Linked DNA regions of Homo sapiens: region 2 is linked to region 1. The links come from fine-mapping of genetic effects on gene expression. Tissue or cell type: whole blood. Region 1 holds a variant in brackets; the other region holds the start of a gene. All regions are shown on one strand. Distances are between the middles of the regions.

Evidence for each region. PIP is the estimated chance that this variant, and not a neighbour inherited with it, causes the effect.
Region 2: it holds the start of CDON, and the variant in region 1 is fine-mapped to the expression of CDON in whole blood (TOPMed, PIP 0.97). The same link has a PIP of 0.9 or more in hippocampus.

What each region holds. Positions count from the first base shown.
Region 1 is chr11:125,974,843-125,982,950 of GRCh38, reverse strand. It overlaps CDON (cell adhesion associated, oncogene regulated), which reads left to right. Exons shown (of 20, transcript NM_001378964.1): 17 at 1,622-1,902; 18 at 4,568-4,647. Among named protein-coding and RNA genes, the nearest start is that of VSIG10L2, 33 kb to the right of the region's middle. The variant T/C (reference allele first, on the strand shown) is at 3,384.
Region 2 is chr11:126,058,481-126,066,588 of GRCh38, reverse strand. CDON (cell adhesion associated, oncogene regulated) reads left to right here and starts at 3,723. Exons shown (of 20, transcript NM_001378964.1): 1 at 3,723-4,010. RefSeq lists silencers at 3,136-3,225, 3,296-3,965 and an enhancer at 6,166-8,108.

The DNA of each region.
Region 1 (8,108 bases):
TGGATGGTGATCATTTGATTTTCTAAGTGGTTTTAATGCCATCGCCTTTAATTGTGTGAGTGCGTGTTGAATCATGAAAAGAGAAGTATTAATCTGAAAGGGATGGTGATCATTTGATTTTCTAAATGGTTTTAATGCCATTGCCTTTAATTGTGTGAGTGCGTGTTGAATCATTAAAAGAGAACATTAATCTGGTCGTCCCAGCCATATTAATCAGATTAAAGTCATCCTACTTTGTGACCTGATAATGTTTAAAAATGGAAAATTCTCATGGTGGTGTTCATTCAGTCATTTATTCAAAAGATAATCATCGTCTTCTGTATACCAGGCACTGTTCTGGACAGTGGAGATGTAATGGTAAATAAAATAAACACCACCTCTGCCCTCTCAAAGTGTGTAGCTTAGTGAGACCACAAGCAGGTGTACTGAGACTACACACCTGGGCGAGAGCACACAGTAATGTGGGCAGCTAAGGAAAGGAGGGACACCTAATCCAGCCTTGGCAAGCTCTCCTACCTTCGAAGAATTTATCCAGACTCCAACAACAAATCCTGTACAGTTTGGACACTCTAGTTTCTAAGAGATACTTTACTTTTTCTAAATATATCTGGTAGATGTGCCTCTGGAAATCAGTTTTGAGGCAGTCATTTGTATGCTTTTAATAGAAGAAAATAGAAGGCTGGGCGGAGTGGCTCACGCCTGTAATCATAGCACTTTGGGAAGCCGAGGTGGGCGGATCACGAGGTCAGGAGATCGAAACCAACCTGGCTAGCACGGTGAAACCCTGTCTCTACTAAAAATACAAAGAATTAGCCGGATGTGGTGGCACGCACAAGCTACTTGGGAGGTTGAAGCAGGAGAATTGCTTGAACCCGGGAGGCAGAGGTTGCAGTGAGCCAAGATCACGCCATTGCACTCCAGCCTGGGCAACAAGAGCGAAACTCCATCTCAAAAAAAAAAAAAAAAAAAAAAAAAAAAAAGAAAATAGAATCACTTTTTGCCTTTGGTACTCCACACCTTCCAAATTGGCTGTAATGACTAAGGAGCTATATGAATGATCAGTGACTGTATATACAACTCCATCCTTTTACTTAACAGAGTTGTTTATTGCTACTTGAAATACCCCACCTAAAGCTAGTCTTTTGTTGTCATTTTATGCAGTTTTTTTCAGCACTTAGAAGTATAATATATAGGAGTTTAAGCACTTTTTCCTAGTATTGCCAGTACTCTGATAGTTTCAGCTTGCCCAATATATTCATTCTCTTTTGAGTAATTTCTCCCTAGGTGATTTTTCTTCCCGTTAACAGAATCATAATTAACTCAGAGTTCACAGCTATCTCTACACTCTATGGAAAATAATAGCAGTAACTTTATTAAAGCATGTCTTACAAGTAGGCTTTAAGTGAACATTTTAAAAATGTTTTTATTTTAGTCTATTTGTAGTTTCGTAGGGGTTTTATCTGTAAGACCTTCTCAGCAAGAAGATTGTCCTTTTTAGTGTCTTACTGTGTGCGTGTGTGCGTGTGTGCGTATGTGCATGTGTGCATGCGTGTGTGCGTATGTGCATGTGTGCGTGCGTGTGTGTGTGTGCGTGTGTGTCTTTTTTGTTCTCTTTTAACAGAATATGACCCACCAGGATATCTCTACCAAGGATCAGATATGAACGGGCAGATGGTGGACTACACCACTCTCTCAGGAGCAAGTCAGATAAATGGAAATGTTCACGGAGGCTTCCTAACCAATGGCGGTCTCAGCAGTGGCTATTCCCACCTTCACCATAAGGTCCCCAATGCAGTCAATGGAATTGTGAATGGGAGCCTAAATGGAGGGCTTTACTCCGGGCACAGCAACTCTCTAACCAGGACACACGTGGATTTTGAACATCCTCATCATCTAGTGAATGTAAGAGACCTAACTATAAATAAAAGCCCCTCTGTCCCTCAGGGTGCCAAGTACTAGAACAGGGACAGCATGCTTGGCTTTGTTCAGTATAGAAACCTCACAAGTTTCCTCGAATGGAAACAGCATGGATCACTGGCAGCCCTTTGATCCAGAGTAGTCTTTGTAAGTTGTTTTCTATTGCCAGGTAATAGTTATGTTCATCAGTTTAGTTTCATTTTAAAATTATTTAACACTGAAAGTGGAATACCAGCAGTGAACAGACTGGAAGTTGTTCTTTAGATGAAATGGAAATACCAAATACTTTAAATTTGATTTATCGAGAGCAGGGTCTTGAAAATGCAAATGCCGAAAAGAGTCAGGCAGATCAGGAAATTGTGGGAGTGAGATGGTAGCACTGGAGGCGATGGCCACCTGGAGAGCACAGACAGTGTCTTCAGGAAGCAGCCGCGGTTTGACACTTACAGTCGTCATGGACTGAGGGCGCAGTGTTGCCAAATTTTCTGATTTTTCAAAACCTCTGTAAATCCAAGTGAAATTGACAGATTTTTACATGCTGGCACCTAATTCAAATTTTTGAAAACATACGTAGGCCATGCCAAACATCTCTGCAGGCCACCGGGTTGTGACTTCTGACCTTTCATGGGCTTCTTTTGTTTGTTTTGCCCAATATGTTTTGTTGTTGTGGCTGGTAAGCTTTTTACATTTTACAATGTTAGTATTCTTTAGCCACACAAAGAGTGATAAACCCTTAAGACAACCTTATTTCAGAGATAACTAGTTGATAGCGTTTAATTTTTGAAATGGTAGTAGAATGACTAGCATATTTTAGACTTACGTGGGGTTCTCTGCACTAGAAAGTTTGATTTATGACATTGTTTGGATGCACATCTATATTACTTTTGATCAAATAGATAATTTGTTTAATTGATGGAATTAAGCATTCAGTTTTTGTCATTGTTCTGATTACAAATAAATTTACCATGACCCACAATGTGCTACAATTTGAAGAAGCTTAGAGTTTTTTTTCCCCCCATCTTCAGTTTATTAAAGATTTATTAAAATCTATTTGGAGAACAAAACTAATATATACTCATATTTTAAAGCTAGAAATTGAATAGCTTTTATGTGACCTAGCTTTTGTATGTTGTGGAAGAAATATTAATTTGCTTTAATGCATCTCATTACTAAAAGAGAATCATGATTTCACTATTTTGTGTGGAAAGATACAGCATGTATTCAGACTTTCTAAGCTTTTTTGGTCACCATTCCTAGTCCAAACTACTACCATTGTCCAAGAAAACTGAAGGAGAGAGCATTAACATTTGAATAGCACACACTGTTTCCATAAGAAGAAAACATAAGGCCCATGTTCGCTTTAGTGTTTGAACACGGAACCTTGGGTTTTTTGAACAATGAATTTCTATTTAAATAATAGGTGCCCCATTTGGTGTACAATGTCAGAAGTTATCTGTGATTCTAAA[T/C]TATTCGTTTTCTTACTTTTCTGGGTGGGGGAAATAGAGAAATTTTAACAGTGTTAGTGACCCTAAAAATCATTGCACTAACTTCAACGTGTTGAGGGATTCAGAGAATCCGTAAGTCACAACGTTACCCTGCAGGTTGTGAACTTCATTTTCTGAGCCTTTCAGGTTTTCCCTCAGATGGAATATAGTATAGGAGAGTTCTTTCTCTCGATATGTTCTTAATAATTCCTGTTGCTGGTTGGATCAGAAACACTGAAGGAAATTTTCAGGACTTTTGGTTTGCTTAGATTCTGGCTACTGTTATGAAATGAATGGAAATGGAAAGTATTCTAGGAAAAACAATTGCCTGAACTTTTCCTAACCTTGAAGGCCTGCTTTGGGTTTGGGTGCAGTGTGACAGCCTCTCCCACCTTTTATCAAATTCAGTTCTGCTGTTTTTCTTCTGAAAGCAGAATTCTGCCTCTGACTATCAGGCTAGTTTAATTTTTAACTTCATTTTTGAAGAACCTTGCTGTCTGTCAAGTGAACATTTTACAATGAGGTATGTGTTAATCTGGGCATTTTTCTTAATTGCTGGGCAGTTTCCGCCAAAAGCAACATCCAAATATTAACACACCCCCTCCAAGTCATTGCTGGCTGAAGATCTACTCCATCTGGAAAAATATAGCATGCTTTAAAACTTAGCGTTGTCAAGTGAACAGACCTAATTGAAATAATTACAGGAAAATGAAGATGAGTTTATCATGTGACATCATCTACACAGGTTTTACACCCTGTTTCTCCAACTGGTATCACATGAAATTCTTCCCTGACTGCCAAGAAAGGGAAAATGAATGGAGGCTATAACATATAATGTATTTTGAGCCCACTAGATTTGAAGGGAAGTGACTAAACTTTTCCCTTCATTTATTTACCTTTGTCTAGTACAGAAATACGTAGGAAAACATGGCAGTGAAGTTTTTGGAATACAGTTAAATCTAATGCAGAACTCTCATTCACTCCTTTGTGAATATGGGTCAGTGATATTCACAATGACGTTGCTCTGGGAGTTGGTTAGAATATACTGTGTGCCCATTTATGGTTGACATGGCTCATGTGTATTTGTGATTATTTGGCTACTGGTCTGTGAGTACCTTCAGCATTCCTTCTTCTTTTCTTTTTCTCTGACACTCCTTCCTGTCCAGGGTGGTGGAATGTACACGGCCGTGCCTCAGATTGACCCTCTGGAGTGTGTTAACTGCCGAAATTGTCGAAACAACAATAGGTATGTTAATAATGTGTCTGCACAAGCTGTTGTGAATAAGGCATATGCATCCTTTTATTTTTCCCTTCAGCAAAGAAAGTTCTTGGAATTTTACCTAGGATATAAAGTTCAGGATTTGCAATCTTAAATTTAAAGCTGTTACTAATTTTTTGCCTCTGCTTTCCAATTTTTGTCTTTTTGTGCCTCGGTTTCTTCAGCTATATAGAAACCATCTTAAAGGCTCTATTTGTCACTGAAATATTATTATAAGGCTTAATGTTTTTGAAAATTTTAAATTAGAGTCATTCTCTGTTATAAAGACTTTATCTTTTCTCACCTTTTATTTTCTACTCTATGTTATGGGATGTTATGAGGATGAATGACAGTGTTTCTGAGTGTTGGGGGGAGGGGGGAACCCTCTGTATATAGTAATTTTTTTCACAGTAATGTTACTGAAATTTTCCTACCAGATTATCCAGTGTTTTTTTTTAATTCTTAAAATCTTAAGAAAATTAAGCAGCAAACCCTTGCTTTGAATTTTGTGTTTTAATTTTAAAAGTGGTATGTACTCACAATATTTCAAACAAGATAGAAATATGGAGAGCAATGTGCATTTAACACATAGGATACTCGGCACACTTTCCTACGACCTCTCTCTATGGTAATCCCAAGGATTACCAAGCTTTTTGTTGTATTAAAGTTGTTTCAGAAATCTTAGTTCTTTCTTTTACATAATGATGTTATTGAATTACATGGTGTCAAAAGTCCTTCCTTCTCAGTCCTAAAACTCTACAACCAAAAAGATTATGTCATAGTTAGTACATAAAATAACTGGAGTATGGGTGGGAGTTTAGATATTTTATTATTGAAATGATGTTTGACCTATATATTTAAAATGGATTAACAGGTTAAGAGTTGTCTCTGGGAGTTATTGAAACCAGAACTTGAAGAAGGATCAGGCCAACCATCAAATTAAAAATACGTTGTTCCAGCCTGTGTTTTGAGAGTTGCAGAACAAAAGCAACAGAGCTTCTTGGAGATTGTTTGTTATCATTTACTTAACCCATTTCAGGGTGTCTATAAAAGAGCCATCTGCTTCTTTTATGTACTAAGGTTTGCTTGTTACGTATTTAAATTCTATATGACCCTGGTTTTGCAAATGTTCATAACATTGAAACCACATTTTTGTCTTGAGCTTTTCATGGACTTTACCGTAGTTTGTTAGGCAACGTGCTAAAGACCTGGTAAAGGTGGTTCATGTACCTGGCGAGTAATCAGACGGATTTAGTTACAAGTGGTCTTGCTTAAAATTTTAACGTGTTTTCTTTTGTGGTTCTTGGTCATCAGCAGATCTTGGTTCTCCTGGACAATAGAATGGTATAACGACAGGATCTCTGGTCTAAGAATAAGTAGACCTGGGCTGTGACATAGCTTAAACCTGTGATCTTGCGAAAGTAACGTAATGTTTCTGAAGCTATTTCCTTAACTAAAAAGGGGAAAATTGTCCTAGGTAATGTAAGATTGCTCCCAACATAATCTGACGGTAGTCTCTGGCAATTTCCTGCCAATCATGTCTTTTTGATGAAGTATCATCTTAATATCAAGAATGCATCCCATTTCCTTAGAAGGACTTATATGACCTCTGCCATTTAAATGACCTTGGCTTTGTGGCTATTTGTATGTGTAGTGTGTGTGTGTGTGTGTGTTTGTGTGTGTGTGTGCATGTGTGTGTATGTAGTATTTTAGTATTTTCAAGTTTTTATTATACAGTTTTTTTTTCCTTTAAGACAATGAACAATTGTATTTCTATTAATTTTCAAGTTAATGACTTACTACATTTCATGTGTGTGGGTTTTACTGTTATCTGGGAATTTAGGTGAATTCTCTTCAGCTTGGAACACCAGATTCTTTTTCTTCCTGGTTTCAATTTTCTTCCTCATGAGAATCTGCCTGTTTAGTGCAAGTCTTTACTTGCCTGCATTGCCTTCAAGGTTAGCCAGTGTCTCACCTGGCTCCCAGGAGCAACTGTATGATTTTGACACTCAATAATTGGACAGATAAGTATCAATAAGTACCTACCTTCAGCTCTAGAAAATTTGAATTATTAAATTTAAAGATTTTAAGTCTTTTCACTTTGGAATTGAGAACAGGTATCTCCTCTTAAGATCTTACAAATGACAAAATTTGTAAAAAGCTGTGAATGCCGAAAGGTAGATGATACGTGGTTTACTCTCAAAATATAGAAAATTATAGTCAATTTATGCTTTTAGAATATCGACATTGTTACTATGAATGAGTTTGCATTTCTGAATATCAGCTGAAATAGTGTAAACATAAAAAGAAGCGTGATTTCAGTTAAGTTATATGAGGGCTATCAAGTGGGCCTCATATGATTTTTGGCTGTTCAGTCAAACAAAACAAAACAAACATTTACTGAGCACTACCCAGGCTCTGGACTAGGTTCTGAGGTGTTTCCCCGTAGAAGGAATGTAAGAACAGTCATGGACGTAGAAAGGATAATGTTTACATAAGAATGAATAGGCGACTTCAGTGGTTCTCAAACTTTAGCGTGCATCACTTGAAACACTTAATAAAAACGCACATTACTAGGCTCTACTCCCACTCCTATTCTTAGACCAGAGTTTCCCATTCAGCAGGTCTAGGGTGGGGCCTGAGAATTTGCATTTCTAATGAGTTCGCAGATGGTACTGATGCCCATGGTCCTGGGACCATGCTTTGAGAACCGCTGGAATAATTTGATCGGCTGTGAAGTGCAACTAGAGAATAGTAGGATATTGAAATTGGACAACTGGACTGAGTTTATATAGTGGATAACCCTGAATGTGAAGGTTTAGTAGTTTATTTAATAAACAAGTCCTATTACTTAATAATAGTCCTATTAAATATTATTTATTAAATAAGCAAGTTTATTTAATAAACAAGGCCTTTTATTGAGTGCCTGTCATGTACTGGGTACTGGCCTAGGCCCTGCCTTCAGAGAGTCCATAGTCTAACAATAGTGATTCTCAGACAGAGGTAGGGATATAGTGAGTAGAGTTTGAAGAAGCACGTTGAGTTTTATAATTTTATATTTAAAGAATAGAAAAAAATCTCTATGTCTGTAATGTCTATGTATACAAGGGTATGCAATTTTTATATTAATCAAAAGGGGATATGCGTTAAATGTTGAGAAACACTGGGGTAGCAGCATCATAATTGTTGCAAAGCTTATTGAGAACAGGAATGATCTGTTCAGAGATATGCTCAGGCTGGATGAAAGATGGCAGTGCACAGGAGGGAAGGGAGGGAGGGGATCAGTGAGACATGGGGAATGGGGATGAAGAGGAAGGGATGAGTGAGACTGCAGACATGGAGTCTTCAGGACTTGGCCATTGACTGACAGGGATCTAGAAAAACAGAAGATTCCAGATGTGTAAGAAGTTTCAAACATGGATGATCTGGGTGGTAGTCATAGTAATAAG
Region 2 (8,108 bases), 84 kb before region 1:
CTCCTGACCTCATGATCTGCCCGCCTCGGCCTCTCAAAGTGCTGGGATTACAGGTGTGAGCCACCGCGCCCGGCCTTGGAGAACCAATTTTAACATGTATTGAGTATTATAAAAGCACCCACTTCAGGCCTGGAATGTATTAAATGTCACTTAGTATCTAACAACCTTCCCACCTCATCCCTGAGGACTTGAGTACTTGGCTCATGGTATTTCATTTATCAGCCTCTCAGTTCCTTCAATATGTCCCCTGACGGCATAAATCATCCACATCGTCCACCAGCACCGGTAAACATACTAGATCTAATCATTACTTGGAACTGTTCTACTTCTGAAATGGTAAACTCTGGTTATTACCAAAGACTTCTTGGTTCTTTCTTACTCAATCCTGTAACAACAGCTCTTTAATGTCATACATATCTCCTTTTCTTTAATTTGTAATTTTTCCAGTCTATTATTCTTCTCAAACCTCTTACACCTTTTCCACTGCCTGGATTCTATGATTGCTGTTTTAAAAATTTTCTTACCAATACCGTGTGTTATTTTCCTTCTTGTACAACTTCCAGAAAAACTTCAAAATTGGGTTGGTGTTATGCTTTTCCCCTTCTACCTGACTGATTAAATTTTGATGGAGAAAACCACATAATCATGCAAGCTCCATCACCATACATTAATGGTCTCCAACCTCAGCCAGGCCCTCAGCATCACTTATCAATTCTCTGAGTGATTTTCTACTTTCATTTTTCAACTCTCATTTTTCCTAATGACTATTCCAAACCTTCACCACCTTCTTCAAGCATCCTTTTCAAGTCCCATACCTTGAGTTCAGTAAACAGCCTTTGCTCCAAATTCATCAAGATAATTGGGGGCTTTAGTTATTGGAGTTTTAGAGATCCATCCTTGGCTACAACTTTCTGGTTCCATATTATTCCTGAGAGATCGCTTCCACTTTAATGGTATAAACACTACTTTATGCTGATGACGTTTAAATCCGTATTTCCACTTGGAGTTCTCTACATAGTGGACATCTGTGGTTGGAGGCCCCATAGTGTCTTAGTCTGTTTCTGCTGCTATAACAAAATGCCTTAGATTGGGTACTCTTTAAGCAACAGAAATTTATTTCTCATAGTTATGGAGGTTGGGAAATCCAAGATCAAGGTGCCTGCAGATTCAGGGTCTGGTAAGTGCCTACTCCTTACAGATGATGACCTCTCTGTGTCCTCCCACGGCAGAAGGGACAGAAGGGGCTAGCTAGCTCCTTGAAGCCCTTTTATAAGGTCATGAATCTTGCTCATGAGGGTGGTCCTCATGACTTAGTCAGCTTCTAAAGTCTCCACCTCTTAATACTATCACCTCTTAATACTATCACCTCTTAATACTATCACCTCTTAATACTATCACCTCTTAATACTATCACCTCTTAATACTATCACCTCTTAATACTATCACCTCTTAATACTATCACCTCTTAATACTATCACCTCTTAATACTATCACCTCTTAATACTATCACCTCTTAATACTATCACCTCTTAATACTATCACCTCTTAATACTATACTCAATACTATACTGACCTTGTGTTCACACAGCTCCCTGTTCATTGCACTGAAGATGTCTCCTTGTACTTACCCACGTGTGTGTCTGTATCACAGTTAGACTGTGAGCTCTTTGAAGCTTGGGACTGCACATTGTTTCTTAATGTTGAACAAATGGATGAATGATTCATTAATGAAAAACTGTTTTACACCTGAAATGATTTCTCTGCTTTACAAAAAAAGGGGGAGAGGAAGTAATTAATATCAACAAACATTGTGATTTTTTTCTTAGTCTGACTATGAGTAACAGTAGGCATAGTGAATTCAAATGGCACTGTGAGATCTGGAGGTGCACAAAGTGCATTATGTCCCAGGAGAAGAACCTGGAATTCTCTGTAGCCACAATAAATTTGCAAGACTTCTATTAACATCCACACAAAACTCTCATTTCAGTTAAATCCTCTATAGAAAGACTTACTTGCCGAATGAAAAATCGTTTACCATAGCTTGTTAATAACATATAGATTCTTGGTCTCCAAAAGTGAACAATAGAACAGTGGAGGACAAACTAGAGTTAAGAGTTTTTTTCTGGCTGGGTGTGGTGGCTCACGCCTGTAATCCCAGCACTTTGGGAGGCCAAGGCGGGAGAATCATCTGAGGTCAGGAGTTCAAGACCAACCTGGCCAACATGGCAAAACCCCGTTTCTACTGAAAATACAAAAATTAGCCGGGTGTGGTGGCACGTGCTGTAATCCCAGCTACTTGGGAGGCTGAGGCAGGAGAATCGCTTGCACTCGGGAGGCGGAGGTTGCAGTGAGCCAAGATCGCACCATTGCACTCCAGCCTGGGCAACAAGAGCACCCCAGCCTGGGCGACAGAGTGAGACTCCGTCTTAAGAAAAAAAATTGTGTTTTTTTTTTCCGTCCTGTACTGACTTTCTTTCCAGGGGCTTTACAAAAACCCTGAATCTAGCTAATGCAGAAAGCTAACCTGCTTGAACAATACCACACTTTCAAAGCATTTCTTTTTAAAATTCACGTAAGAAGGTAAGGGAGGACTGGCATATTTCTCCTGAAGTTCAGTACTGAGTATTTATAAACTTAACTATTATTAGGGATCCTTTTGTAGTTAAGCTAATAGTAAGTAATGATGATGGGGAAAAAAAAGAGCTAACTGCTAATAATAACAATTTATAAAGAAGTTACAGTCCTTGAATGCCCACTGAGTGGCAGGTGCTTTTCACAAAGTATCGTATTTACGCTTCACAGCAACATTTTGAATAGAAATTTATTTTTCCTTTTTCTGTTTGAACAACTGAAGTTCATTGAGTTCAGATAACTTGGGGCAGGTCCAACGGACGAGTTGGAAAGACTCTGGGGCCAAAGGCTCACACCACGCCTCTCCTAGCCCCTGAGTTTTGCTACCTGCTTGCGTTTATGTGCAGGCAGGGCGGGTGGGTGGTGGTGGGGGAATCAGATGAAGCTGCCTAAGGAATTAAACATGGAAAGTGGTGGAAAGGCGAAGGAGGTATAAGCGGTGGGCCGCTGGAACCCTAAGAGAGACCAGGCAAGAACCGGGAGAAGGGATGCACCCGTTGGCGGCTCAGAGAACTTAGGTAGAGGCGAGGGGCGGGGCGGGGCGAGGGGCGGGGCCTGAACGAGGCTAGGGCGGGGCCCGAACGAGGCTAGGGCGGGGCCCGAACGAGGCTAGGGCGGGGCCTCGGGGGACAGAGTCGACCATTTGGAGACCTGCCAGAAGAGCCGTCTCTCCAAGGGAATGAAAGGTGAGGGGAGCGTGAGTGCAGGCATGATGGGAATCTCCGTGACTTGGTAAGGCAACTCACCCTTACCTGTCCTACACCCAAGAAAAGCCTCTTCTATGCTCCCCTGGGGTATCTCTCTTGCAGAGTAGGCAGGTCAATGACGAGGAGAGGGTCCTGCCCAGAGCGTGCCCCCCTCCGTCACTTGGTACGGCCCGTGCCCCCGCCGCTGATCTGGCAGGCTGCGCGCGCACACTCCGGCCGGGTGCGGGCCGGCGGGGCACAGCGGCCTCTACGGCCCGCCTCCGTCAGTCATTCCCCGGTCCCTCCTCCCGCTGCTCGCGTGCTCCGGGCCGGCCCAGCACCCTCCGAGTTACGTGCCCGCGCTCCCCGGCGGGGAGGAGCGCAGCCGCGGGGGCGCGCCCCGGTGACTCCGCCCCTCAGCTCCCCTCCCCTGAGCCCGGGAGCCCGGCTCGCGCGGCTAGGTGCGAGGAGACCCGGGACCCCACGCCCGCCCGCCCTGCCCAGCGCCCCAGCCCCGGCGTGCGAGGCGCCGCTCCCTCCTCTGCCCTGCGCGGTGCATGGAGGGGCCCGTTCGGATCGCAGCCGCCGCCACCGTAGCCGCCGCCGCGCGCGCGCGGGGGGATGACCTGGGGGTGGCTTTCCGAGCCGGCTGCAGCGCAGGAGGTCTGGAGGCTTAGCCAGCCCCGCGGAGAGGTGCGGGGGTGGGGGTCCCGCCGCAGGGTCGGAGGGAGGGGTGGCGCGCGGGCACTGGGCTTGGGGGGCCTTGGCTTAGGGGACGGGAGGTCCCGGGGACGGGCGGGCCGGCGTTCCCTGGAGGGCGTGGGGGTGCAGGGCTGCGTGCGGGGTCTGGATGCTGATGCTTGCCCGGCGGGGAGCCCCGGCGTTCCGCGTCCTCGGGGGCTCGGAGGCACCTCGCGGGAGGAGGCGGGGTGAGGTGTCAGTGACACGACGAAACCTCTTCTTGACGATGGTCCTCGGGGGCAGGTGAGATGCCGCAGAGCGGGGAGCTAGGGCGCCCGCGCGTTTTCCCAAGGGAGCCGGGTCCCTGGCCTCTCTCAATCTCCATCCCTGCAGAGCGCCCGCGAGAGACAGTGATTTATGTGTAGGGAGAAGCAAGAGAAATTTCCTGCACAATGTATCTTTCTCTGCCTTCACAAGACTCACTGACTTCCCAGCCCCAGGGAGTGTATTTTTCCTTCTCCTCTGTAAAGCTTTCTGTGGATTGCATTATCATTTGCTAAATACATTACAGCTCGCTATTTATTTCAGTCGGCAGCTTCCAGACCTTTGTTGCTTTCTCTCCACATCTAGGAATTTCAGCAATAAATCACTGAGGGGGATAGATAGACTCTCTTGCCCTTCCCTTCATTGTTCTCCCTAACCCCACCAAATCAGGTGGAAGGCTCTCCAAAAGGAGCTGTTTCCAGAATGCCTGCCCTTCCTCATCAGGACGACAGAGGGTGGCAGGTGCTTTAAGGGCAGACTGCTTTCCAGTGGGAATCCAGAATTTAGAGAACCTCATCAACAGAAAGTCAGCCTTTGTGTCCCAAACCAGACACCTTGAAAAACAGGAGGTTGGACTAAAAGCTCACATGAGATTTATTTTCAGGCCTATGCCAGTAAAGATGAAAGACGCCAAGTCAGTGAATTCTGATTCCTTTCGGCGCTGATAACATAACCCTCAAATTCCCAACTGACACTTGGCATACCTAGTGGACAGTGTCTCCAAGGAGAGGAAGGTGGGGAGGGTGTTAGAAAATGAAATGAGTTTATTGTCAGCATAATTCTAAACATTCTATGACATTTTGTAGTTCTCCCCCACCCTCAGTCTATTTTTAGCTGAAAATTTGGGGATAGTTCAACTTTTAAGATAAGATGAAAGAAAACCTTCAAAAAATTTTCTGGAAATTTTAAATTAGTGCTTAACTAGAAAGCATTCTTTGGAACCCGAGAAGCACCAAATACTGCAGTCTCTGTTATGCACATGTTGGAATGAACTGCCTCATACTTGAAGTTATATGAGAAGGATGGAGAAAACCTGTTTCATTTTGTAAAGACGTGCCCTGGGTGTGTGTTTGGCAGTGTGTAGAACAGAAACATTTATATTTCTATTAAGAAACACACAAATGTATACTGTTTAACTTTCATGCAAAAACTTCCCAGTGTTTGGGAAATCTGTCTTTGTTTGAATAGTTTAGTCAGCCAGGAGAATCAGTTACTAGAGGTACTGTGCTGTTGTTTGTGTAATAACTCACTTGGGATGCTTTGATTGATTGCCATGGTTCTCATCAGCCTCCTCTTCTGTGCAAAGTACTTAAACAGCTCTGACTCTCAAGCCTTCAAGTACAAAGAACCCTTAGGACTTGGATACTGATCTAGCTTGTGTAGCTTGGCTTCTAAATCTAGCTTACGCCTTGCTTTCTTTGCAGGTGGTTTGACTTTGCAGGAAAAGAATTAAGTTCACTTTAAGATAGGACTTTCTCCTCCAGATCGTCAGGGTATATACAGCTGAAGGCAGTAGGTAGGAATAGGAACTAATGTCCTAGGGCTTTGTTCTAAAGAGAGCAGGTAAAAATTTGTTGACTATTTCTTGGGCTTGCTTCTTATTTTCCCACTTCGCCCATCTGCCTTCATGACTTTGTAGACAATTTCATGTATGGTTTTGTCGAAATGTAAGTTGAAGTAAAATTTTCCTTCTGTAGAATTTTTTTTTTTCCACGAACGTTTAGACTAAAAATTGGTGATTGTTTCGAAGTTAAATACTAGGGAAATGATTTCAGGAATTAAATATTATCGTAGTAAAAATCAGGGAAGCGTTAGAAAATAAATAATGAGTTGAAAAATGTGTTGCTTTAACGTGTAATGATATGAGCCAGCGCCTTGTGATCAGCTATGGCATGATGTAGAAGTATGGGTAAGACAATACAGTGGAGCTGTAGATGAGCTGCGTACATGGTAGCCCCCCTTTAAGTAAATGAACTTAATACAAACTAATTAGATTAGAAACAGAATTTGGAGTATGGTTGCCAAATATTTTGAGTTGAAGGACTTGCTTTTTTACAGTATTTTTTAATGGGGAATTTTTTCAAGAAATTTCGTGAACTTGAATTTGAGAATGTTTTATTTTTACTTAAATTTTTATATTGTATGTAATCATTCCATGTGATAAGTTTTTGTTGTGTATTTGGCACTAACTCACTTTCAACAGCACAGGGGAGGGCTTTACTTGATTCTTTTTTGTTAAAAAGAAGGGATGGTGTATGGAATATTCTTAATGTCACTTGAAAAATATTGGATTACAATTAAATGAAAAACTGGTTTCTTGGTTTTTTTTTTTTTAATCCTTCAAGTTTTCCCTCATTGCTTGTGCTCTTTCCCCCATTGTCAGGCTTAAAACATACAGTATCATTGTCATCTGTCTCCTGAATAATGGTCCTGAGGTGATATTATTAATGTGGCTTTTTAAAATCAAGCTAATTATACTTGCCTAAAAGAGCCACATGTGTGTGATTCTAGCTGCCTGGTGCCTTTTGAGAGCCCTGGAGACAAGCTAGTGAATAGAGCTGAAAATTCATTCTGTATTTGATTAAATGGAACAGACTCGCTGCTCCTTACCCCAGCGGGGGCTATGAGATCTCTTGATCCCCGAAGCGGCTCCAAGACCCTGGGAATTCCATTAGCGAGCACCTGAGGAATTTCTGCCCTGCAGTGCCTTTTTTGTATGTGTGTATGTGTGTGTGTGCAGAGGGAGTGGAGCAGAGCGGGGATTGGGGGGATGCGGGCAGGGGGGGTTGAGGGGGTGGAGGGAAGGCTACATTAGAAGACTCCATATGTTGGCAGATCTAAAATCAAGGCATGACTTAACAGCTTATCTTGTAAGAGAAAAGCCCAACCCAAAGGCAGATTGCTAGTCCGGACTTTATTACAAGCAGGACTACAGTGATGTGTTTTCAGCACTGAAGTGAACTCCAGTGTAAGTACAGAAAGTGGCTTCTCTGCTTTCCCTCCGAAGCACAAGCATATACACGTTGCAGACTTGGTAAGTTTTCTTTGAATGATCTTTTGATAAATATGTAAAATTATCTTACTGTTTGGTCTTGCCTGTAAAGGCTGATGTATCGTTTTAATAACTTTCAAACTGAGAGCAAAATCAGACTTCATGTGAAACAAATGGTTTTGCAGTGATGAAATGCTTGTTTTAATAGGCATATTTTAGTTTACTATTGATAGAATTTGATTGTTTCTGTTACATTATTATTATTATAGAATTCTAATTTAGATTATGTCTTTTCTGTTGTCTTTTTAAGAATTGTATCATTTCTAGTGTTTCTGAGGCATTACTTTGCAGACTTGCTAGCAGCGCCAAGTAAATGAAAATCTATCTGCCAAAAACATTCTGTAAAATCTTTGGAGCAAAATTTTTGAGAAACATTAGTGTGTCTTCCTTCCCAAGTCCCTTTTCCCCTGCCTCAAATAATGTTTGGGCACAAACTTTTTTTCAGAATATTAGCCCAGTTTGTTTCTTGTGTACTTTTCAAGGAAGACCAGTTCTGAATGGTGGATGGTGTAGTTAATTGGTTTTCATCTACCAAGAATGTGAATTCCAATGCTCCTGGTTTTCAGCTAATGCAGAATGCAGTAGCATATTTGATGGTTCATTTGATATATTTTGTTTCCAAGTAAAGTCGTGTTGTAAATAGTGCACAGTCTTTTCCGTCCTACTCCCATGTAGCCCTCTACCAAGTTCTCCTCACAATACAGTGTGTTCAGAAAATAAAGAAGCCTTTTTGA